Homo sapiens: one gene and its partners. The protein of the gene in region 1 purifies or fractionates together with the protein of each later gene. This does not show direct contact. Each region holds a gene or a part of one and is shown in the gene's direction. Other genes may lie near its edges.

Region 1 (3,500 bases):
TTGGGATGCCAAGGCAGGCAGATCTTGAGGTCAGCAGTTCAAGACCAGCCTGGCCAACATGGCAAAACCTCATCTCTACAAAAAATATAAAAAATAGCCGGGTGTGGTGGTGCATGCCTGTAGTCCCAGCTACTCAGGAGGTTGAGATGGGAGGATTGCTTGACCCTGGAAGTTTGCTTAACCCTGGAAGGCTGTGGTGAGCCAAGATATTGCCACTGCACTCCAACCTGGGCAACAGAGTAAGACCCTGTCTCAAAAATAATAATAGTAATAATAATAATAAATGAAGTTTGTAGTACATGTTATTTCAAAATAGCCCTAAATGTTTTCACTGCCCTTAAAACACCCCTGAAGGTGGGTGAAAATAAAATCAAGGGCAGAGACCAAATTCTTTGATTGTTGATCCAGTGCTCTTTCCAACATGCCATAGCTTATCTTCAAATATGGCAAGCCCAGATGTTACTACAAATGATACCGTTTCCCAGTGTGATGAAGGGTCATTATCATAATGGACTGCCCGATTGCATTTTCTTTGGTTAAGGCAATGCATTTTGCAGGTAGCAGTGTTGTTTAGCGTACCTTTTCCTTTTAAGAAGAGGAGCCCTGAACAATGTGTGTCTTGTTTCTTTGTCACTTCTCAGGCTTCATTAGCTTTAACTACAAGGTCTATCAGCCTGTCATAGTAGCAAATGCCATTGCCTCGCACAAATCCTTCACTTTCTACTTGGCCTTCTAAATTCCTGATGGATCTGTGTTATACTGTTAAATGGGTCACACTGTCTTTTAACCTGGGTTCTCTTTTCTTTTTAGACTCTGAATTCAGTCACCCCTCGACTACAAGCTGAAGACTGCAGTATAGCGTGCCTGCCAAGGAACCATGACAAGAACCGTTTCATGGACATGCTGCCACCTGACAGATGTCTGCCTTTTTTAATTACAATTGATGGGGAGAGCAGTAACTACATCAATGCTGCTCTTATGGACGTAAGAGACTGCCCTCTTTGTTAGTGTAGAGTGTTGTGGAAAGCTACATAATGCAACTGAACACTGGCTAGTTTTCTTTTCGAGGAAATTAAAATAACCTAAAAAGGAAAAGTGGAAACTTTTATTGAAACACATTTTTTTGGAAAATGATTTTAGGTTTTCCCTATAGAGATTCTTAAGAACTGTCATTTTTATAGCTTTATTGTAGATTTGGAGCTTGATTGTCAATTATTATATTCATGTAGTAAATATTGCAAGTTATAAATTTCATCTTAATTATTTTCAGAAAAGAAAATCATGCCTTATCTATTTTGAATATAATTAGAAATGAATTTTTTAAATCACAGAATGCCAAATCCTACAAAAATCATGTTAATTTGGGAAATTTTTATTTCTGACATTTAATGTTTCAATAATTTACAATTAATTTGTTGGCCATTAATCAATAAGGACTATTATAAGTAACTAGAGAGGGGATGGATGGTATTATGTTAACACATCCATCATAATGAAAGAACAATCTTGCCCCATTCTAAAATCTTAAATTGCAGGGTGTTATATAGCCCATAGACAGAACAATATGGAAAGAAAGTTTTCTGTTTTAGTTTTTGGTTTTTTTTTTTTTAGACAGAGTCTCACTCTGTCGCCCAGGCTGGAGTGCAGTGGCATGATCTCAGCTCACTGCAACCTCCGCCTCCCAGGTTCAAGCAATTCTCCTGCCTCAGACTCTTGAGTAACTTGGAATACAGGAGCGTGCTCTACCACACCCCGCTTATTTTGTTTGTTTGTTGTTGTTTTTGTTTTTGAGACAGAGTTTCGCTCTTGTTGCCCAGGCTGGAGTGCAATGGCACAATCTCGGCTCACTGCAACCTCTGCTTCCCAGGTTCAAGCGATTCTCCTGCCTTTGCCTCCCAAGTAGCTGGGACTACAGGCATGCACCACCATGCACGGCTAATTTTTTGTATTTAGTAGAGATGGGGTTTCACCATGTTGGTCAGATTGGTATTGAACTCCTGACCTCAGGTGATCCACCTGCCTCGGCCCCCCAAAGTACTGGGATTACAGGCGTAAGCCACCGTGCCGGGCCTTTTTTGTATTTTTAGTAGAGATGAGATTTCACCACATTGGCCAGGCTGGTCTCAAACTCCTGACCTCATGATCCGCCCACCTTGGCCTCCCAAGGAAAGAAAGTTTTAAATTATGACTTTGGCCACTTTACTTTGATTATGTTGGAAAGAAGCAAGAAAGCTATCATGGTTTATAATCTTTTTAAACAGTTTACTGCCTTCATTTCTAGCTTTTGCCCTTTCTCCTATGAAACCATATCAAGGAGAAATTAGAAGCCACGGTTCATTTCTTTCTGACTATAACAGGCTTTCTAAGTTATTGTTCCTGTTAAGCCCACATTCTGTTTCTACGAGTAGTCTTCACCAGTTACTTTACTCTTTTTGGTGCTGCAAAGCGGAATAGTCTAAAGGCAGGCTCTCGTCCTTGCTGTGGTCACTCTTGCCTGTGAAAAGCTCTCATCCTTGCTGTGATCGGAGTCTTGCCTGGCCATTAATCACATCCACTGAAATCACATTAAATCCTAATTATACCTTTTCTTTTTATATTAGGTGTCTGGAAAGGCAAATATACTAAATAGAGAGATGGCATACAATACTTTTTCATTTCTGCATCTAAATATGGAATAAAAAAAGGATGTGTGAACAAGAAAAGGAGAAAATAATAATATTTAGAAAAGCATTGATGCCTTTGAATTTTTTGCCATTGGCATCTTTGTCAAATTTTTCTCAATGTCCAGATTGTCTCCTTTTCTTTTCTTTTTTCTTTTTCTTTTTGAGACAAGCTCTCACTCTGTAGCACAGGCTGGAGTGTCGTGCATGATCACAGATGACTGCAGCCTCAATCTCCTGGGCTCAAGTGGTCCTCCCACCTCAGCCTACCAAGTAGCTAGAACTAAGGTGTATGCCATCATGCCCAGCTAATTTTTTTTTTATTATTTTTTGTAAAGATGGGGTCTTGCTTTCTTGTCCAAGCTTGTCTTTTTTTCTGTATGAAAGTTGAAGCTTGTAATCCACCTGCTCTTACTGTCTGCTTAATCCCCTGTGATTCAAAAAAAAGACATTTCATAGTTAAAGCTGTTCTGGGGATTTAGTAGTGCAAATGAACCGTTGGAGAAGTAAAGCTGGTTTGATTTACAAGAACAGGGTTTATTGTTCACTTCTTTCTCCCTACCCTTTATCCCCATCATTAGTACCCTTTTGCCAGGTCTATGAGGGATTAGGAGCTAGGGCCAAGAATTCTGTAATTTCAAAGCCTTACATATGTTCCTGCATTTAGAGGGAAAAAGAATAGGAAGTCTTCAGTCTTCTCCTCTCTTATCAGCTCCTCCTCATGCATATCCCCTCCCCTGTGGCTCAAAAAATGAGTAGATAGCCGTCAGTCTGCTTTGACTTACCTTTGCATGGAGCAGACATTTGATTGGAAGAAGAGCTTCCTTTCTTCTAACTTTT
Region 2 (3,500 bases), on another chromosome or scaffold:
ACTATCCTCGCATGCTCCCTCCTCTGGGAGGGCTTCCTGTCTTCACAGCCGCACCTTCCTCCCACTGCTACCAGTGCCATGGACCCACTGTATGTTTCCTGGGGGCCATGCAGAAGGTCCCCAGACCAGTGCTGGCCTGCGACAAATAAGTACAGAAATGGAGAATAACCCTTTTCAAACACATAATAGCATTTGATAGAATCAATCAGGAGACTCAAGTTTTTACTGCGTGCATTGCTTTAGACTTGGAGGGCGTGTGTTGGTTGTTAGCAAGGCTGTGACTGCATTTGCTGAGATGGTCAAGTAATTTGGACTATGGGAATATCACCCAGCATGAAGTCAATGATTACAGGCCTTTGTGTCTGTGGTCTTTCTGTTATAACTGATCTTTTTTTTTTGAAACGGAGTCTCGCTCTTGTTGCCCAGGCTGGAGTGCAATGGTGTGATCTTGACTCACTGCAACCTCCGACTCCTGAGTTCAAGCGATTATCCTGCCTCAACTTCCTGAGTACCTGAGATTACAGGTGCATGCCGCTACACCTGGCTAATTTTTGTATTTTTAGTAGAGACAGCATTTCACCGTGTTGGCCAGGATGGTCTTGAACTCCTGACCTCAGGTGATCCGCCTGCCTCGGCCTCCCAAAGTGCTGGGATTACAGGTGCCCGCCACCACGCCTGGCCTATAATTGATCAGATATCAATTATACATTTTCAAGTGTAATTCTAGCTTAAAGAGGATAAAGTTAATACTTAGCTGTTTATATAAGATGTTCAAATGGGCATTACTGCCTGATAGTGACAAGAAGAGAGAATGTTGGGAGTTTCTTTTAAGATAAGATGGGTGTTTGGATAAATGTCTGACTTGGTCTTTTTCCCCCTTAGATAAGATCATTGAGGTTGAGGAGGAACAAGAGGACCCATATCTGAATGACCGCTGCCGAGGTGAGACTCGGGCGTCTCCCATCAGTTGGTATTTAAACAAACCCCAAGGGGCCAGCAAGGTGGCTCAGGCCTGTAATCCTAGTACTTTGGGAAGCCAAGGCAGGAGGATTCCTTGAGCCCAGGAGGTTGTGGCTGCAGTGAGCTATGACTGCACCTTTGCACTCTAGCCTGGGCAACAGAGCTGGACCCCGTCTCAAAAACAAAAAAACAAACAAACAAAAAGCAAAACCAAGGAATCTCGGTGCTGATCTCACTGGAAGTTGGAATCCAGGTTTTGCTTTGGTTTACCCTGCAAAGTACCCTTTGGCTGGGAGCCAGCCATGAGCCACTTCCACCCTGAGGAGTCGTGGACTCCCAGCTCCTCCTTCCCTTTCCCCTTCCAGATCTAGGGCTGGCTGGGGAGGGGAAGGGTGGGCTTACCAAGGAGGGGCCCTGGTGAGGCCCTGCTGGGGAGGGTGGCCCAGGCCCAGGGCCAGAGCTGGTGTGGAAAGCCTGCACGTTACCGAGCCCCCAGGCCTTGTGAAGGTGACAGAGGCCTCCCTCAGGCTCTCAGGGGAGAGGAGGGGGCTCAGCGTTCCCTGCCTTTGTGCCCCTGGAGCCCCAGCCACGGTTCTGTCACCATTGGTGATATTCATTTGCCTCACAGGGAGATGTCTGCACATTTAACTAAGGGCCTCGCAGGTTTGTTTTTCATATGATAAAACTGCTTTTCTTTCATGGAACATTCTGGCATGTCTAGACCTGCAGATCTGCCTCACAAGCTCTTTCAGTGGTTCCCCCTGTGGTTAGGGTGTTAATTAGGGGCCAGTTTAATTCTTAAATGATGCAGTCAGTGTACAGTGACAGTTGGTCCAGGGGCGCTGTCCAGGGGCCTGGTGGAGGGAGGAAGGGAGTGACCTAGAGCCCCAGCAAGCCTCAGGGCTATGGGAGGAGCTTTCTGGGGAGGGGAGAGCTGGTCTGCAAGGAGGAGGTGGGATTAGCTGGGAAAATAACCCTGAAACGGTCCTCAGGGAGACCTGAAGCCTTGTAAAGGGCACGGACCCACTGTAGCAGGGTACTGGGAGGCAGTGGGCTGGGGAAGGAGGTGGGGTTACAGGGCCAGAGAGAGGGGCCCTAGAAGCAGGCAGGCTGGCAGCAGTTAGAAGTGTATCTCGTAGAATCTTTCCCTGGTTGAGGCTTATCCTGATGAGATTTGCACTCTGAGCATCACTCTGGCCACCCTGTAGGAAGAACAGGTTGTGGGGTGCTTCTGGGCTATGCAGAAAGACCAGGTAGGAGGCTGTGGCCACAGCCAGGTGGGCAGCTGCAGGAACTGAGGCCATGGTAGTGGGCTTGGAGCAGTGGGACAGCTCGAGAGTTCAGTGAGGAGCAGGTACATGAGGCCTAGTTGGGGCCTGGCCTTCCACGTGGAGCCCACACCCCCATGTCTGTGACCGGCAGTGAGCTCTTCTCTGCTTCGCCCCTTCCAGGTCCACCCCAGCCTACAAAGGGCACCCTGCACACCACCTGATTTTCCAGACGGGGAGGTTGGGACCTGAAGCAGCAGCCCCTGGGGGGTGTCCAGAGCCAGAGCCTGGGGGTCTCCCAGTAGGGCAGCAGGTGGGCTCCAGCCAGGTCAGCCTGCCTTCCTGGGTTCGTCTGCCCAGAGGGCGTTTTCTATGACCCAGCCTGAACGGAGCTAGAAACCAGGCGGTGCCTGGGTGCGTCCATCCCTGGCTCATGCACGCTGTGCTTCCAGGAGGCGGGCCCTGCAAGCAGCAGTGCCGAGACACGGGTGACGAGGTGGTCTGCTCCTGCTTCGTGGGCTACCAGCTGCTGTCTGATGGTGTCTCCTGTGAAGGTAATGTCCCTATCCCAGGTGCCAGCAGGACTGGCCGGTCACTGTGCTTGGGAGCTCTGTGCTGGAGGACTGACCAGGGCCTGCCTTCTACAACCCAGACCCCATTCAGGGGTGGAGAGCAGCCCAGGACGCGCTTTCTCGTGTTCGCTGGAGTTTGCAGCGCAGAGGCCCCTGCCGAGACTTCCCTCCAAGACAATATAAGCACTGGGGTTGGGAAAGAGGATGGAGTTGGGGTCTAACCAGGTTCCGGATCCAGGATCTGCTGAGTGGCCTTGGGCACATCCTTCAGCCTCTCCTGGCCCCCGCGTCTGTGAGATGGGGGAGATGGAGAAGATGCTGCCCCTCCGTGGGGTTCTTGAGGACCACATAACTACAGTCTCAGAAAAAGCAGTAGATATGAACGTTAGCAGGGGAGAGAAATCACTGCTTTCGACTCCGTGCAGTCCACAGCCCGGATGTGCACATGGTGGACCTGAGCTCAGTTTGCGAGGGTGCAGGGAAGCACTTCCACCGTGGCTTTGGCACATTCCTTTCTAGGATGTATTAGGATGGGTCGTTCTTGCTGGTCACCCCCGCACTGCCTCGGTCTCTCCTAGATGTCAATGAATGCATCACGGGCAGCCACAGCTGCCGGCTTGGAGAATCCTGCATCAACACAGTGGGCTCTTTCCGCTGCCAGCGGGACAGCAGCTGCGGGACTGGCTATGAGCTCACAGAG
Region 3 (3,500 bases), on another chromosome or scaffold:
AATGTGATTTCAAAGATTTTCTCTCAATAAAGAATATATATAGTGGAAATCATTCATAAATTGGACAACAGGATTAAATGCTCTTTTAAATATGACTATAATAATTTTCATATGCAGTCACATTAACTTAGTTTTAGTCTACAATTAGGTACCCAATTATGATTTTTAAAAATGCAATGGCATGAATAAATAAATGAGTATACCCATTTGTTGATCTTATTCCCTATTACTTCAAATTTGTAAGTATCCTTAGTGGAAAAGAGTAATGTTCATTTTGGAAATAATCATGTCTCAACATGATTGGGGTCTACTCAAGGGGGAGGGTGGGAGGAAGAAGAGGAGCAGAAAGGATAACTATTGGGCACTGGGCTTAACACCTGGGTGGTAAGATAATATGATCAACAAACCCTTGTTACACATGTTTACCTATGTAACAAACCTTCACATGTACCCCCAAATCTAAAATTAAAATTAAAAAAAACATGTTTTTCTGTTGTTCAATAACTCTACTCATATTTGTTTAATAATGATGTATTGTCTACATTTGGGATTTCTTCTTAAATATTGCAGAATAGTTGTAAATACGTAACGCTTTTCAAAGGTGTCTTTACCTTTAGAAAAGAAAGAAAATTAATTTTGATTAATACATTTGTACCACAGATCCATTTGTTTAATCTTATTTTTCTCAAATATAAGCTCGTATATAAAAGTTTCTCAGATATAAGCTTGTGTATTTAAAAGTTTCCATTTAAACATGAATAATATTATAACTATATCCTTTACAGAAGTTGAGAAAGTACCTTTTCATATACAATTTCTTCCAACTTTGTTAAGAGAAAAATAACCAAAAAAAAAAAAAAACTTCTTGAAGAAGATAGATCATGTTGCCTTGCTAAGATACCGACATTACATTTCATCTCACAATACATTCTTATTAACAGTCAGACATCTCTTCCTGAGTTGCATACACCTCATTGTCCTGACTGGCTTAGCCTTCAGACCAAAGACAGGTATTGTTGAAACATGACCTCATTTTAGTCAAAAGAATATGTTTCTTCTTTAGGTAAGATCAAGGTACCACCTATCGTCTCTTGTTTTATTCTTGCAATCAATAGGACATCCCTTCCTAACTTTTCCACATTGCATTGACATCCTTCAAGATTTCCAAGACTGCTTAACTTTAGAAATACGAATATATAATTCCTTAAGAATTTTTCTACCGCTGAGTTTTTCTTTAATGACGATTTGTCATCTTAGCCCTTTCTTCTTAAAATGAGAAAAGATAACTAACAATGAGTTTTGGGGAGAAATGAAACTTAGTTATGGTTGCTTTGTGTGTTCCTAGCATATCTTAAGATATTTGTGAGAAAGAAAAGCTGTAGGTGTAATGCTGATAACCGAAATGTGTTTAGAATCATCTGTTTTCTTTTGAAACTAGGATGTGTAAGGAAAGGAAGAAAAACAATGCCAAGAAAGAGAACTTTGATAGTCAGAATTTATTGAAGCTTCTGTCCACTACTGCTCAGATCAAGTAGCTGAGCTAATTAGAACCTTAAACTTTTGCTAAAATAGATATTATAGAGATTTAAAAATGATTCAGTTTTTAGATTATCTAAGACATTTTGTGCATTTCCAAAGCTTTTAATGGTATATTTTTATTGGGACAAAAATGTTAGAATAGCAAGTGTGCTTTATTGAAATATTCCACTTTATCCAACTCTATTAACTTTTAAGGCATTTTTTTCATGACTAAGATCTGGAAGTACAGTGATAATGACACCACCTCGTGAGTGAGATTCTTGCCTCATCAGGTGAAAGCACTACAGATTGTGCCCACTGGGCATCCATATTTTTGAGATTTTCATTAAGCATAATAACTACATCAGATTTGTAGATGGAATTACTAACTCAGAATTCAGGCACTCTTGCTGAGCGCCCTTGTATTGATGTCATTTCTAACACAAAGACTAGCAGTTCAGGAGCACTATATTGATGTCCTGTAATACAACAGCACACTAATCTTATTTGCAAGAAAATTTGATGACTATCCAACATGATCAACATTTAGAATATCTAAATCTAAATGTTGAATTTAGATATACTAAATATATCAGATATTCAGAACTTAAACCTTCTTCTTTGTCCGTTGTTGTATTACACTCAATTCTACAGTTCCTTCTCCTAGCACGTTTTCTTCCTATTTTCACTTGCTAGTGATCTTGTCAAATATTTAGAAATTAATCTTGACAGTGAAAGAACCAACATCTTAGCACATTTTGACTTCCTTTGCTATTCTCATTGCTAGGAGAACATAAAGTAATGAAGGGCATGAGGGTTTTACCTTGTGTGTATTTTCATCTGGGTGTCTATGAAAACACCACCAGAGTTTTACAGAAAATTGCTCCGACCCATTCTGAGAAGATAAACATAGCTATGACCCTAACGTTCTGTGAGTGCACAGAGTGTAATGTCTGTGAAAACACATCGTATCATGTATTGCATTACATAAATACCTATTATTTTATTAATTATATTAATTGCTTAATATGAGTTACTAATAGCAAGAAGCTCTTTACATTTTCAGCATACCTTCGCTTTTCATTCAAATTTTTTTTTTCTTGCTGAATCACATGATCCTTGAAGCAACTCATATAGTTGGTGATCACTCATGTGTTTATTCACTCATTTGACAAAGATGAGCAAATAAGTGGTAATCACTATTTTACGTGGTTGGAATGAAGCAAGTGAACAAGGTAGACAATGTAACTGGGCTGATAGGGCTTTAGTGCAAGAGGAGACAGAAACAGCAAACAAATAAATAAATAACATCCTTGCTAAAAAGAAAGAAAAATAATGTAATGTGACTGAGGACAATGCAATTGGGAGTCGTAGTTATAATCGCAGAAGGCCTTGTTGAGTAAGTGACATATTTGGTAAAACTAAGTGACGAGAGGGGACAAGCTCTGAGTCATCTAGAGGGAGGAATTTTCTATGCAACCCTTGAGAGGAAGTTGTGATTTTGGTATTTTAAAGAAAGCAGGTCACTTTGTCTGAAATAAACTGTGTGTGTTTGGGAGAGAACAGAAGTAGAGAAAGCCATATTTACAGTGAAGTCAGATTAGGTCAGGTAGGGTCATGCAGATCAAATTGAGGCATTTGGGTTTGGTTCTGATTTTGAGCAGCTACTGGCTGTCTAATCAGAGGTGAAAATGATGCAACTTACTTTTTAAAGAGATCATGCTTGGTCTGAAAAGAAGGACAAGAAGGGAAATGATGAATCCAGTTCAGGGATTATCAAATTCATCCTGGAAAAGATGTTGATGGCTTGAATGAGGGAGTAGTAGTGGCAATAACGACAAGCTACAACAGAGATTTGCATTTTTAGTTTAGAAAGATTTTCTATAAGAACGAATGCAGCACCATTCTATGTATTAGGGAGGATAGGCATGAAATAAAGCCGCAAAAGATAATCTTTGGGGGAAAGGGTTAATATTCTAATC
Region 4 (3,500 bases), on another chromosome or scaffold:
GTTGATGGGAGATAACAGTCAATGGGCACTCGTTGTGGCCGGATACTGTTCCAAGTGTTTATGTGCATTATTCATTTTAGTATCTAAAATAGGTACTATTGTGTCTTATTTTATTGAGGGAAATGGATGCACAGAGGCGGAAAGTAACTTGCCCCATGTCACATAGCTCCAAGCGGTTGAATCAGGATTTCAAGTCTGGGGGCCGACTCCACAGCTGGTCCCGGTGGCCTCTGCGCACTGCGTCCTCCCGGTTCTCCGTGTGTCTGAGCAGGTCGACTGCATGCTTAAGGCGGGCGGCGGGGGGTGCCCTTCTTATATTCTCTTCCTGGGCTGCCCCTTCCTTTTCTGTGCATCACCAGGGAACAGCAGGGTCCCTTCGAGGCTTTGTCCTAATCATCACCCCGCCAAACTTTGCTGGTGCAGAGTGCACCCTGGCCTCTCCCTTCCGGGGGTAGTCTGAGACCAGGGACATGTTCTCCAATCAAAGGCACCAAGTGAGGCTCCCGGGGAGGCCACCTGTTCCTAGCCCAGGGCTCCCAGTGACCCCGGGGGCTGGACTCCCACCCATCCTGCAGGGGCCGCCCGCTCTGCGCCTTTATCAGCCCCCCTGCGGAACCTGGGGGGGAGGCCCAGTGTCTCCACCTACCGGGCGTTTCCTGTAGGACCCCCTTGTTTGGACATGTGGGGCAAAGCCCTAGAACTGATCACTGGGCACAGGTGGGGAGGGGGCTCCTCGAGGACAGCTTGGATCACAGGTGTGTGCCAATTCTGTTTTGTTTTTCTTCCTCTTTCCTGCCATTGAACTTCCTACTCCTTCTAGCATGTGAGAGACAGCTTCAACTTACTCCCTGGCGACGGCTGAAAAACATGGGCTATTTTTAGTTTGTGTGAGTCTAGTTTATTTGCTCCTGGTAGATTTGCCTCTCCCTGTCTTCGTGAGTGTGTGTGTGTTTGCACACACGTGTGTTGGTGTGTGTACACAAGTGCTGATGGTGAAAACAGTGACACACACACCTGTGTAGGCATGCACACACCTGCCTTGATGTGTGACGACGTGATGATGTGTATGCAGACACCTGTGTTGATGTGTGCCTACATATGTTGACACAGGCACACATGGTGTGTCTGTACATGCAAATGGACACACATGAACACACGTGTTTATGCATGTCCTTGTGTGTTGATGTGTCTGCACATACATGTTGATGTGTCCCGCTGTGGTTGGCCTTTCTGGGGCCAGGCCCAGCACCTGGGGTTTCCAGGAAACATTCCCTGTCCCTTCCCGGAATGGCCGGTACTTGCTGTGCCTCCGCCGGGAGATGCACCCTGATTAACTAGAACGTGGCGAAGCTCAGCCACCTGGAATCGCCTTACCCTGGCCTTTGGTTTCTAGCAAATGGGATGGAAGTGAGTCCCCATGGAGGGCTTGCTCCATGAAGGTGTTTTTCCTGGATGAGTCTTGGCCCCAGTGGCGATTTGCTGCAGGCTTGTTGGCACTGTCATTCGTGGGTCCTGCATGGAGGTTCCTTAGTGTCCAGAGGGTGATTCCATGTCTGTGGTCAGCAAAAGAGAGGCCCCTGGGGCCATAAGCCACACCCCCCAAGGCTGAACCCAGAGAGTTTGTGGTTTAAATCTTGGGCCTGGAGGATTCTGTGGAGGAGAGTTCGGTCCAGGCCTTCTGCTCCAGGAGGCGCTGGCAGCTCCGACACCACAGACACATTAATTGTGCGGAGAATTCAACGCTAGGGCTCAGTCAAAAATCAAAAACGCAAAACAAAAAGAGAATCCCTTTTATTTACCTCGTCTCCCTCCCCCTGTTTGGACATGACCTTGAGCTCTGCTGGCCCACAAGTGGCCAGGCTGGAGCTGTCTTGCAAAGAGAAACAAAAACAACACAAAAAGCTGCGTTCTTGACTTTGAAGCCTTAAAGGGCCCAGGGGCTGGCTCCCTGTGGGTGTTGGGGGCGATTTTCCTCCCAAAGCCTGCGTGAGATATGGAGACACTCCGCCTGCTCAGAAGCTCCCCAGGTCCCGGGTTCCAGGAAGCCTCATGGCCCAAGGCCTGGCCGTCTTAATTTTCTTGTTTTCTTTCCCTCCACTCCACTGTTTCTTCCTGTTCACTGATTGCCTGTGCTGGGGAGGGGGAAGGAACGGGAGGGGCCTGACCTTGTTCACTTCCTGGCATTTTGGGTGAAGTTCCTTACACCTTCTCTGGAAGCTTCTAGAAGGACCCTTGAGGCGCTTTAAATCTCCATTCTCTGGGTTTTCCTCCCACCTTCCTGGCTGCTCTGTCTTCTTGCCTGCTGATGCCTCCTCATCTCCCTGGCCTCCTGCCTCCTGCTGGTGGAGCTCCAGGCATCCTTTCTGTGTGTCCTCATCCCTCATCCCTGGGGTGGGCTCCTCCAGCCTTGCGCCTGAATGGCATCTCTGTCCTGACCACTCCCAAATTGGTATCCCTGGGCCCAGACCTTTCCCCTGAACCCCACCCCCGAGTGTCCAACAGCAGAGTCCGTATCTCAACTCGGGGTCAAAGGCAGCTCACGCTCGCCCCGGCTGGCTCCTCATCACCCTCGGCCACACCTGTGGCTCCCACCAGCTTCCCACTCCATCATAGCCCCCCCATCTTCCAGTTGCCCGGGCCAACATCTTGCACTCAGCCTTGACTCTGTTCTCTCCACTTCCCTCAGAGAACCCGTCAGAAAGTTTTCTAGCTTCATCATCTAAATATACCCAGATTCCAACTACTTCTCACCACGCCCGAGGCGCCATCACCTCTGGTCCAAGGCACCATCACCTCTCCCCCAGATTCCTGCATCCGCCTCCTCACTGGCCTCCCTGTGCTCATCCTTGCTCCCCAGTGGGGTTTCTCAATAAGCAGCCATGGGAGCCCATCAAGATTGCACTTAGCACCTCCTCCCCTCAAAGCCCTGACATGGCCAGACCCGTCCCCTAGGAGTCACAGCCAGGTCCTAACCTGGCCCAGGGCCTGTGCCATCCACCCCTGCCACTTTTCTGGCGACGTCCGCATTCCCTTTTCCCTTGCACAATGGCCTCCTGGCCATTCCTCAGCCCCATGGGCCCAATCGCCTTAGCTCTCCTGACACAAGCCCTCTCATCTCCCGTAGGTCTCTGTTCAGCTCTCACTTGCTCACGGAGACCCTCCCCTGATTCCGTTTGTGCATCATGCAGGTTCCCCCTTGTCCCCCTGTGCTGCCAGCCCTCCTTACCCGCTCTGCTTAGACCTGTCAGCCACTGTAGATACCCTGGAACTTCCCTGGGTATCATGTTGATTGTTTATTGTCTATTTCTCCCCATGAGAATGTCGGACTGTGAGGGCAGGGACCTTTGTGTTATTCGTTGCCGTGACCCAAGCCCCTGGAACGATGCCTAGCACATAATCGCAGGTTCTCAAATATTTATTGAAAGGATGTTTAAAAGACAAGGGTTGTTTCACAGGATGGTTCGTGACCAGTGGCAGGTTGTGGTCCTGTGCAGGGCAAT
Region 5 (3,500 bases), on another chromosome or scaffold:
AGGCCTTATAGTGAAGATTCATGGCTTCTCATTAAAAATAATAATGCTAAGAAAGTTTACATACAAATAACACCAAGGATGATTTATTGTGGTTTTACAGCGCCAATGAGGAAATTTAGTGCTTATAGAGGTTACAGAGGACCCCTTGAACCAGTGTAAAAAGATCAGCTATTCTACAGTGGAGAGCATTTCCTCTGTAGATCAAAGGAGCTTAAGCCTATGCTAAGTCTTTGGGGTGGTAAATGGAGTTCACACGTGCAATATCATTGCACTGTACAGGCCAAATGTATTTCTTATTCATCCTTTACTGCTCTGACCTTTCAACACTTTAGACATCCTTTTGTTATTCTTTCCATCAGTAAACCAGCTGTGGATCAGCTGAGGGCAGTAACTAATTTGCAGATGCGTCTGGAATGTTCTGTTTTTTACCCATTTGGGCTTGGGGTCTCATCTTACGTGTTGCAAATTGGAACTGAAACTTGTTATTATTTCTGCAGTCATTTACTATCCTGGTAGTATTTTTTATATCTTCGGTATGATATTCTAGGTGAGTAAGGTAGTAAATTTTCACCACAGTAAAGGTATAGTTTTGACCATTTGCTCAGAATATCAATGTAATGTTTTGTGTAGCATCTTAGCATTTGAAAGTCACGAGAGGTAAGATTTCTGGCCAGGGCATTTCTATGGAAAATAATAGCTGTGCCTCTTCTGTTAAAAAAAAGATGGGATGTGCAGAGTAACACAAGAAGAAAGCAAACAAACAAGCAAAAAGGACGTGCTTGATTTCCAGAAGGGAACATAAATGAAGGTTTTCTTGCCTTTGTTCATAGAGCTAGCATATGTTTTCACAAAATGTTTATATTTTGTGAATGGTTGTGCCTTGAAATCCTGCAATAATAATACTTAACCATAATCATTGTTAGTTGTTGTCATGTTAGCATATATTATCTTTTGGTTGGTATCGGAGTCAGCTGCAGAATGCCCTGCTTTTCTTCCCTACAAGTTCTGACTACCAGCCCTCTTAGTATCTAGTGGAACCAGCACCTTCTGAGCTGGCCGAGGGTAGGAGGTGTGCATGCCTATTGACCTGCACGGGAATAGAGGGAGAAGCCTTTGTCCTCCCTCACTAATCATGTGCTCTGACCCTTTGAGCTAACAATCTACTGGTTAGGCAATTGAAATGATATAAAGGAATAAGACCTGACATGTTGTTAATTGTGGACCTCCATTTAGAGTAAATCTACAAAGAAGAATTAATGTCTGGTTATTTGAATTCAGGGAGAAGATCCCTTGTGAACAAACAGATTGTTTACAATGTGCAATAGCTGTATTTATCCTTCTGTGAGTTGCTTATAATCCTTGATTCCAGCCTGAGATTACCAGTAGCAAAGCCCCTTCCCCAAACCACATAACAATTTGAATAACACCTCTGAAGGATAAAACTAAATGCAAGCCATACTGGAAAAATATTTTACCTAGAGCCCCCCCATTGACAGCATGTGGACTTGGAAACTCTGGAGAGGCCACTTTCGAGGCTGTGAAAGCAGGAAAGTCACTGAACTTAATGGAGCCTCTGTTCCTTCATCTGTAAAATGATAAATCTCTAGATAATAGAGTGAGTTAACTATGCATTGCTCAGCACATAGTTAGGCTTGCAGCGAAAGGTTTGTTTAATCTGAATCTGAGGAGAAAGGTCAAAATAATTGAGATCCAAAGTTTTAGATAAGGAGAAAGGAAGACATTTTAAAAATGGAGATGCGAAATGTGAAGATCAGGAAAATATATTTTTGAAGATTGAATTGTAAGAACCATATCATAGCTTTGTAGGCAGGGAAAATGATTTTCCCTTTCAGTGAGTAATTTAAAATATTAATAGTTTAAAAATAGTTTTATGTTAGATTCTAAACAATTAGGATTGATTTCCCATGGCAGGGCCCTCTTCCCTCATTCATCCTAGTCATAGGCCATGAAATGTTACAGGATAAGCATACTGCGGATGGACAAAAGGGAGGAAAAATAACCTGAAAAATTTTGTTAAATCATATTCGCATTTACATTTTATTTTTTATTCTGAGTGTAGTTTGTATGAGTAAAGCTAGAAGAAGCATTTTCCAAGTAGGTAGGAAGAGATACATTCGCAGGGAGAACTTTGTTCAGAGATGTCCTGAACACCTCCCACCCTGCTGATTAATTTTGAGCTGTGGATATTATAGGACGCTTGAAATGTTGATTCACATGGGCAGTGAATTCTGGGTGCTTATGGATAGTCCTGGAAATAGGGGATGTGGTTAGTCTGATGGGTTGTATGGGAGTGGATTGTGCTTGCCTAATAAATTCTTAGGCATTTTATAAACAGGAGAGTTAGTTGGTGCTGTAGTCCCAGATTGGTCTCTGTGTGATATATCTGGCTTTGCACAGGGCAACTCTTCATGCTCAAGATCCTCAGCCCTGACCCCTGCTAGCCACTCTCATATGCATATTTCTTATGATGAGGCAAATGAAGGGATAGTAGGGGAACCTTTGCTGGAAAAAACAATTCAGAGTGCATGGTCTGGTGATGGCGTGTCTGCTGCATTAACCTCATAGATAAGGAATGGTTTGTATGTGGTCATTGGGGATTTCGGGGTCTATTTGAAGTGAAAAACTGCATTTTTGTGAGCCTAAAGGCAGCTGACTTTGCCTTATCACTGTCTTTCATGGGCTTACATCCAGAGGTCCTAACCTTAAAGGTCAGCCAGAGAAACAGGGTAGTACAGTGAGAAAATTTTCAGCAATGTCTGACTCTTTGGCTGAGAGAGGGAGTCCTGACCCAGAAATATCCCCTGGGCAGGGAGGGATATTTTTGTTGTCGGTTCAAGTTATGTGAAGCAGTGTCTGGTTTTTACCAAGGCTGAAGTATCTCCAGGCATTGCTCTGCATTGGGACTTTTTTATTCATTTAATTCAGGTTGTGATCAATGACAGAAAAGCTGACTTTAGCTTCCTGGCTGGTAAAAATAAATGCTTATAGACATTAATGCATGCTAGAATACACACACACACACATATATACACATATACTTATATATGATATATACACAGATATGTATGTGTGTAATATATGTACATATGCACAGCATATATATGTCAATTTTTATTTTTACCAGAATAAAGTTTGCACATAGTTTAGAGTAAAATTACTCATGAGTGTTCTCACTAGTTTCAACAGATTATCCATCTCTACATCAAAGGGTACCAAGGAGGAACAATCAATACCAATAAACTCTCCAATTTGAGTTCATCCTGAGAGTAAAATTAGATCGGAAAGAAAACAAGACTAAGAGTCAGGTTTGAGTGAAATTCCAGGGTCTTTACTTTTATCAACCAACCTGACCCTCAGTTCCTCATTTTTCAGATAGGGAGCCATAATACCTACTCCATCCACCTCATAGAGTTGCTGTGAAAATCAGGTGACCTAATAGTGAAGATGAGTGTGTATTAGCTAAAATAAGGCATAGGGAG
Region 6 (3,500 bases), on another chromosome or scaffold:
CAGCGTGGGCAACAAGAGCGAAACTCCATCTCAAAAAAAAAAAAAAAAAGTATGTCAAATAGAAGCACTGAAATGCAGTTATAGAAGGCTTGCTGGAGAGGTGGTATTTGAGCTCAGTCTTAAGGATGAGTTAGTCAGGCGATTGGGGGTGGAATCAGTCTAAGAGGGAGAAGAGCATGGTGCATTCTGGGAACTGCAGTCAAGCACAGGGGTGAGAGCAGGGCCAGCTCCATAGTCATTACCTGTGTGATCTTGGGCAATTTATTTTAACATCTCTGAGCCTAATTTGCTCATCTATAAAATGAGGATAATAATAGTGTTTTTGTCATAGTGTCGTTGTGAGGATTAAATGAGTTAGCACATGATAAAGCTCTTAGAACACAGAATCATCACTGGCTGGGTGTGGTGGCTCATGCCTGTAATCCCAGCACTTTAGGAGGTCAAGGCAGGTGGATCACTTGAGGTCAGGAGTTCAAGACCAGCCTGGCCAACATGGTGAAACCCGGTCTTTACTAAAAATACAAAAAAATTAGTGGGCATTGTGGCAGGTGCCAGTAATCCCAACTACTGGGGAGGCTGAGGCAGGAGAATCGCTTGGACCCAGGAGGCGGAGGTCGCAGTGAGCCGAGATCGCACCATTGCAGTCCAGCCTGGGCAACAAGATCAAAACTCCGCCTCGAAAAATAAATTTTTTTAAATAATTAATTAATTAATTAATTAATTAAAAAAGAACATAGAATCATCAGGGTGTATGTTACCAAGAGACAGTATAGGGAAAGAGGGAGAGAGCCCACACATGAAGGCCGAGGGACAGTGAGTGTCTTCTGTGGCCTCCCAAGGAGTTTGGGCTTTATCTGTGTATGGTAGACAGCTGTTGCAGGATTTTAGGACGGTTGACTTTTGCATTCCTGTAGTACCTGGAATCAGGTGCAGGGTCTGGAGTCACCTGTAGGAGTGGTAGAGCCCTCTAGTGGCAGTCTGTAGAATGCAGTGGGAGAAAGACCCGGAAAAGGGGAGTAATTGACGAATGCCACCGTTGGCTGGCGAGGTGGCTCACACCTGTAATCCCAGCACTTTGGGAGGCTGAGGCAGGCGAATGGCTTGAGCCCAGGAGTTCCAGGCCAGCCTGAGCAACGTGGTAAAACCCCGTCTCTACAAAAATACAAAAAATTAGCTGGGCCTATGCGCCTATATGTTCCCACCTACTTGGGAGGCTGAGGTGGGAGGACCTCTGGAGCCTGGGAGGTGGAGATTGCAGTGAGCTATGATGGCGCCACTGCACTCCAGCCTGGGCGATAGAGCAAGACCCCGTCTCAAAAACAAAAAATGAAAAAAAAAAAAAACCCCAGGTTAGACGGCTTGGGTGACTAGGTGTCTCTCAGAAGTGAGATTTGTATGCAGGCGTAACTAGATAGTGGTGCTTAAACAAATTCAAAAAGTAGACAAAAAACGGGTGTCAGAAAAGCGAATAATTCCAGTGTAGACATCCAGATATTAGGAGACCCCCAGGTAGTGAGAGTGGTCGCGGAGGTGGCTGGGTAGTTGTGACTCAGTATCAAGGAGTGGGGGAGCCACGGAGTCCACAGTTTCTCCGAGAGCATGTCAGGTGGGAAGAGGTCAGAGAGGGATAGCCCGCTGATGCTGTCTCCCTACCGCCAGTCTGGCCTAACTGTGGAACTTCCTCTTAGGGTCCTGTTTCCAGAGGGACTCCTCTATTCTTGGCTCATCGGGGATTAATGATCAAGCCCTTCCTGCCTAGTTCCCAGCTCTGCCCCACTTTTCCAGCTGTCCCTACCCTCTCAGAGGCCCCCTTACTGCTGTAGGAAGCTCTCCCGAGTTCTCTCCACAGTCCCCTTAGTAAGCGGGATTCCAGCCCGTACCAGAGAGGGACAATCGGACAGCCGTGGCGGTGGGCACTCTCTGGGAAAGAGCAGCAGCTCAGGAAGACGAGCCACAACAGAACTGTGGGAGCATCTAGCTTCTTCTGGAGAGCGGGAGGGCCGGAGGGAGGGTCTTGCAGCCCTGCAGACAGTGAGGGGCTGGGGGAGTGACTCCACGGTAAACTCCTTCCTATTTAGGATGCAGCTGGGGCTGGAGCCAGGTCTGGCTATCGTGGTCGCCGCTCCCCTCACACCCCCCATGAACGCTTCGAGGGGCTCACGGTGCTTAAGGCTGCGCAGGTGAGCACAGGAGGCACCCGGGCCCGTCTGATGCCCAGACCTGGAGGAGAGGCTGTGCAGGAAGCCGGGCCCCAGGGCCTGGGCTTTTGTGAAGGAGCTTTCTTGGGACCGAGACTACCTGATAGGACCCAGCGTGGAGAAAAGGGATGTTCTGAGAGCTGGGGCCGGGGTTGTTGTCATGGAGAGAGAAGGAGCAGTTTGGGCTGATGGACAGAGCTGGATGCTGACAGACTCCAAACCCATGGGTGGAGAGCGGCAGAGTTGGGCAGGGGCTAGGGCCGAGACCACCCTCCCCTTGCCTTCCTCCTTTTCTGCCCTGCCTTTCACTGCCTGCAGCTGGCCCGGGCTGGGACAGTGGGCAGTCAGGGTGCTAAGCTGCTTCTGGAGGTGAGCGAGCGGGTGCGGACCTTGACCCAGGCCTACTTCTCCCCGGAACGGCCCCTGCATCTGTCCTTCACCCACCTGGTGTGCCGCAGCGCCATAGAAGGTACGACAGGGACCCCCCACTGCTCTTCTCCAACCTCAGGCCCTGCCCCCAGGACACTGCCCCCAAGAGCCCCGGGGTGGACGTGCACGGCCTGAGCCCACAGGGTGGCAGATGGGCACAGGGGCACAGAGGTACCCCCAGACCCCTTTGTGTCCTAGGAGAGCAAGAGCAGCGCATGGACCTGAGTCACCCAGTGCACGCAGACAACTGCGTCCTGGACCCTGACACGGGAGAGTGCTGGCGGGAGCCCCCAGCCTACACCTATCGGGACTACAGGTGGGCAGCCCCTCTAGTGGTCAGGCAGGTGGGCAGACAAAGGTCATCCCACTGCCGGCCTGGGCCTGGGTTGGGGTCTCACTGCCTCTTGCTTTTTTCCCTCCCCAGCGGACTCCTCTACCTCAACGATGACTTCCAGGGTGGGGACCTGTTCTTCACGGAGCCCAACGCCCTCACTGTCACGGTGCGTGGAGTGGGGGGTGTGACGGTGTGACAAAGGGCCCAGCTGTGGGGTCAGGATTCAAAACAGAAGGCTCCAGAGGCAAATGCAGGGAAATGGCCAGGGCTTTTAACCCTTTCACTTCCCCGCCTCCGCAGCCCTCCCGCTGCTTCCTCCGTAGCAAGGTCTCTAAGTGGCCGAATCAACCCTACCATCAGTATTTGTCTCGCCTCCTAAAGAAGGGTGAATGAAGCACAGCTTGCAGGTGCCTCCAGGACTCCATGGCCCTATTCTAGGGATTTGGGGAACTTGAAATAGTCCTTCCTCTTTGCAGCGAGGTGAGCACAGTGGCTGGCGCACAGATACCAGGGCCGCCTTGACTGGGGCTCGGATTCTG
Region 7 (3,495 bases), on another chromosome or scaffold:
AAAAAAAAAAAAACATTAGCTGGGCACCTGTAATCTCAGCTACTTGTGAGGCTGAGGCAGGAAAATCACTTGAACCTGGGAGGTAGAGGTTTCAGTGAGCTGAGATGGTGCCACTGCACTCCAGCCTGGGCAACAGGGGCTCCAGTTCCCCAGGTCCAGTCCCTTGACAGCTTCAGGTCACACAAAGGAGTTACAAGGCAGAAACCTTCTTCAAACCCGACTCCAGTGTGACTGTCCCCAACATGCACAGGCCTGGCCCCTCTGGAGGGGTCTCTGGCAGGCACCCCTCACCCCGCCACACCTGTGTCCCTCAGGATGCTCAACAGCAGTGCCATCAGGAACCTCGGCGTAGACCTGCTCCCGGGCTACCAGGACCCTTACTCGGGCCGCACTCTGACCAAGGGCGAGGTGGGCTGCTTCCTCAGCCATTACTCCATCTGGGAAGAGGTGAGGGTGCCTGCTTCCTCCATCCACAGCCTTCGGGGAGAACGGGGCCAGTTTGTTCTATTCACTGCTCTGTGAACGAGTGAGTGAATGAAGACATTCATCAAAACCTGGCCAGCAGCTTTCAATCTCCTCTGTGTTCAACACCCCAGTGGGCACCACTAAGCGGTGCTTGTTTTCATTCTGCAGTCTCTCTTGAGCATCTACTATGTGCTAGGAGATATTCTGCTCTGAGAACACAGAGGAGGACAGGAACAATGCATGTCTGCTCCTTCCTGCAATAAAGGGATCCCCCTGGGGCTCAGGGACCAGAGCGGGATTATGGAAATCAAAACCAAGCTTGCAGTGGAGGGGAGAGGTATGGGCCACTTTGAGAGGTGCCTCGTGTGGGAGGGGGTCAGAATGGACCTCACCATTGAGGGGCCGGGAGAAGAGGCTTCTAGGCAGAAGAGAACAGTGGGTGCCAAGGCCCTGAGGCAGGAAGGTGTTTAGGAGCAGAAAGAAGGAAGCCTGGGGCTTAGCATGTGCTCAGTACTTGGCCAAGAAGCCTCGGCCCAGGGGCTGGGAGTGTGAGCGCAGGAAAGAGGTTGCTGGACACGGCAGGAGAGAATGGGAACTGGGCCCTCCAAGGGCAGCCCTTCCAGGAGATGGGACATGGATTCCTTGTTTGTGTTCTCTGCTATAGCCAAATATATGTGCACGTGTATGTGAGCATTATGGGTTTTTGTTTTGTTTTGTTTTCTGAGATGGAGTATTGCTCTGTCACCCAGACTGGAGTGCAGTGGCACAATCTTGGCTCATTGCAACCTCTGCCTCCTGGGTTGAAGCGGTTCTCCTGTCTCAGCCTCCCAAGTATCTGGGATTACAGGCATGTGCCACCACACCTGGCTAATTTTTCTATTTTTAGTAGACAGGGGGTTTCGCCATATTGGTCAGGCTGGTCTCGAACTTCCAACCTCAGGTGATCTGCCCACCTCGGCCTCCCAAAGTGCTGGAATTACAGGCTTGAGTCACCATGCCCAGCCTATGTTGGCTTTTTTACCGTCCCTGAACAAATTGGAGGATGACATGGTTCACTACTTTTTTTTTTTTTTTTTTTTTTGAGACAGGGTATTGCTCTGGCACCCAGGCGGGAGTGCAGTGGCGTGATCTTGGCTCACTGCAGCCTGGACCTCCCGGGCTCAAGCAATTATCCCACCTCAGCACCCCCGAGGAGCTGAAACTACAGGCGCGCACCACCACACCCAGCTAAATTTTGTATTTTTTGTAGAGACAGGGTTTCGCCATGTTGGCCAGGCTGATCTCAAACTCCTGAGCTCAAGTGATTCCACCCACCTCAGCCTCCAAAAGTGCTGGAATTACAGGCATGAGCCACCGCTCCTGGCTTCACTACTTTCTGAGCTGATTTCCTTTTCACAGAAGTTATCAAAAGTAGTTTTCCAAAAGTTATTCTAAAGTAACTTTTCCAAAAGTTATCAAAAGTACTTTTTCTTTTGGATATTCGGGGCTGGGGTCTTCCCACCCCCCACCCAGCCCAGCTTCCTTTAGAAAATAGCAGGAGGCCAGGCCAGGTGCGGTGGCTCACGCCTGTAATCCCAGCTGAGGCAGACAGATCACGAGGTCAGGAGTTCAAGACCAGCCTGGCCAACGTGGTGAAACCCCGTCTCTACTAAAAATACAAAAATTAGCCCGGCGTTGGCCGGGCGCCGTGGCTCACGCCTGTAATCCCAGCACTTTGGGAGGCCGAGGCGGGTGGATCACGAGGTCAGGAGATCGAGACCATCCTGGCTAACACGGTGAAACCCTGTCTCTACTAAAAATACAAAAAAATTAGCCAGGCGTGGTGGCGGCGCCTGTAGTCCCAGCTACTCGGGAGGCTGAGGCAGGAGAATGGCGTGAACCCAGGAGGCGGAGCATGCAGTGAGCCGAGATTGTGCCACTGCACTCCAGCCCGGGCGACAGAGCAAAACTCCGTCTCAAAAAAAAAAAAAAAAAAAAAAATTAGCCCGGTGTGGTGGTGGGCACCTGTAATCCCAGCTACTTGGGAGGCTGAGGCAGGAGAATCACTTGAACCCGGGAGGCAGAGGTTGCAGTGAGCCAAGACCATCTTTTGATGGGAACTGCAAGCCACTTCCCCGCCCCCAGAGAGTTGGGCTTCTGGGCCCAGCCACCATCTGTCATGCTTGCACTCAGGCAGCTGGAGGAGTGGGAGGGGAGATGGCTCCTGGTCTTGGCCATGGCTGCTTTGGCCTCCACCGTTCCTGCTCCTCTTCCATGCAGCCCCCTGACTTGGGGGGCCATTTCACTCCAGTCTGGGCAACAAGAGTGAAACTTCGTCTCAAAAAAAAAGGAAAATTGCAGGAGGCCAAAGTGACAAGCTGGGCCCTGGTGTTCAGCAGATGCGGGTTCATATCCCAGCTCTGCCACTTCCTGGCTGTGTGTCCTTGGACAGGCAGTTTCCCATCCCTGCATGTCCACCTCCTTCCTGCGATTGAGGATCATCATCTCCTGCCTCCTGAGGGCCCCTGCAGATACGCAGTGGCACAGCCCTGGGGCACAGTAGCACTCAGGGAATGTAGCAAGGGCCACGGTTACCATCATGATTCTATCTGGAGATCCTCAAATGCCAGAGCGAGGTTGGGATTTCCGGTCCCAGGCAGTGGGGCCCCCAGCAGGCTTTGGGGCAACTGCATGATGTGGCCAGGCCAACTGAGGCCAGGCAGAGGCTGTGAGCTTCAGCGTGGAGGGAGGGGGGTTGTTTAACTCCGAAGAGCCATCTCCCACCCCATTGTATGCCACAGGTGGTTGCCAGGGGCCTGGCCCGGGTCCTGGTGTTTGAGGATGACGTGCGCTTTGAGAGCAACTTCAGGGGGCGGCTGGAGCGGCTGATGGAGGATGTGGAGGCAGAGAAACTGTCTTGGGACCTGATGTAGGCAGCCTGCACCCTCAGGGACAAGGGGGCAGGGTGGGCCTCCGGAGTCTGCCTTTTCCTGCTTGGGACCCTGGCCGGCCCATCCCCTGAGAGCCTGGCCCTGTAGGAGCGGGTGTGGG

The links.
Region 2: the proteins of PTPRK (region 1) and FBLN1 purify together in Homo sapiens (affinity purification with mass spectrometry; 3 studies listed by BioGRID and IntAct, with this or other methods). This does not show direct contact.
Region 3: the proteins of PTPRK (region 1) and LRP1B purify together in Homo sapiens (affinity purification with mass spectrometry; 3 studies listed by BioGRID and IntAct, with this or other methods). This does not show direct contact.
Region 4: the proteins of PTPRK (region 1) and SCARB1 purify together in Homo sapiens (affinity purification with mass spectrometry; 3 studies listed by BioGRID and IntAct, with this or other methods). This does not show direct contact.
Region 5: the proteins of PTPRK (region 1) and PCSK5 purify together in Homo sapiens (affinity purification with mass spectrometry; 3 studies listed by BioGRID and IntAct, with this or other methods). This does not show direct contact.
Region 6: the proteins of PTPRK (region 1) and P3H3 purify together in Homo sapiens (affinity purification with mass spectrometry; 3 studies listed by BioGRID and IntAct, with this or other methods). This does not show direct contact.
Region 7: the proteins of PTPRK (region 1) and CERCAM purify together in Homo sapiens (affinity purification with mass spectrometry; 3 studies listed by BioGRID and IntAct, with this or other methods). This does not show direct contact.

The regions. Positions count from the first base shown.
Region 1 is NC_000006.12:127,978,600-127,982,099, reverse strand, and holds part of PTPRK (receptor-type tyrosine-protein phosphatase kappa isoform b precursor), read left to right. Parts: intron 1-810; coding exon 811-984; intron 985-3,500. UniProt on the Homo sapiens protein: Regulation of processes involving cell contact and adhesion such as growth control, tumor invasion, and metastasis. Negative regulator of EGFR signaling pathway. Forms complexes with beta-catenin and gamma-catenin/plakoglobin.
Region 2 is NC_000022.11:45,530,383-45,533,882, forward strand, and holds part of FBLN1 (fibulin-1 isoform D precursor), read left to right. Parts: intron 1-882; coding exon 883-942; intron 943-2,680; coding exon 2,681-2,782; intron 2,783-3,378; coding exon 3,379-3,500. UniProt on the Homo sapiens protein: Incorporated into fibronectin-containing matrix fibers. May play a role in cell adhesion and migration along protein fibers within the extracellular matrix (ECM).
Region 3 is NC_000002.12:142,121,017-142,124,516, reverse strand, and holds part of LRP1B (low-density lipoprotein receptor-related protein 1B precursor), read left to right. Parts: intron 1-3,500. UniProt on the Homo sapiens protein: Potential cell surface proteins that bind and internalize ligands in the process of receptor-mediated endocytosis.
Region 4 is NC_000012.12:124,853,865-124,857,364, reverse strand, and holds part of SCARB1 (scavenger receptor class B member 1), read left to right. Parts: intron 1-3,500. UniProt on the Homo sapiens protein: Receptor for different ligands such as phospholipids, cholesterol ester, lipoproteins, phosphatidylserine and apoptotic cells. Receptor for HDL, mediating selective uptake of cholesteryl ether and HDL-dependent cholesterol efflux.
Region 5 is NC_000009.12:75,893,673-75,897,172, forward strand, and holds part of PCSK5 (proprotein convertase subtilisin/kexin type 5 isoform 3 precursor), read left to right. Parts: intron 1-3,500. UniProt on the Homo sapiens protein: Serine endoprotease that processes various proproteins by cleavage at paired basic amino acids, recognizing the RXXX[KR]R consensus motif. Likely functions in the constitutive and regulated secretory pathways.
Region 6 is NC_000012.12:6,834,907-6,838,406, forward strand, and holds part of P3H3 (prolyl 3-hydroxylase 3 precursor), read left to right. Parts: intron 1-2,078; coding exon 2,079-2,180; intron 2,181-2,516; coding exon 2,517-2,667; intron 2,668-2,825; coding exon 2,826-2,943; intron 2,944-3,051; coding exon 3,052-3,127; intron 3,128-3,500. UniProt on the Homo sapiens protein: Part of a complex composed of PLOD1, P3H3 and P3H4 that catalyzes hydroxylation of lysine residues in collagen alpha chains and is required for normal assembly and cross-linkling of collagen fibrils.
Region 7 is NC_000009.12:128,430,857-128,434,351, forward strand, and holds part of CERCAM (inactive glycosyltransferase 25 family member 3 isoform a precursor), read left to right. Parts: intron 1-314; coding exon 315-447; intron 448-3,245; coding exon 3,246-3,373; intron 3,374-3,495. UniProt on the Homo sapiens protein: Probable cell adhesion protein involved in leukocyte transmigration across the blood-brain barrier. Does not express any beta-galactosyltransferase activity in vitro.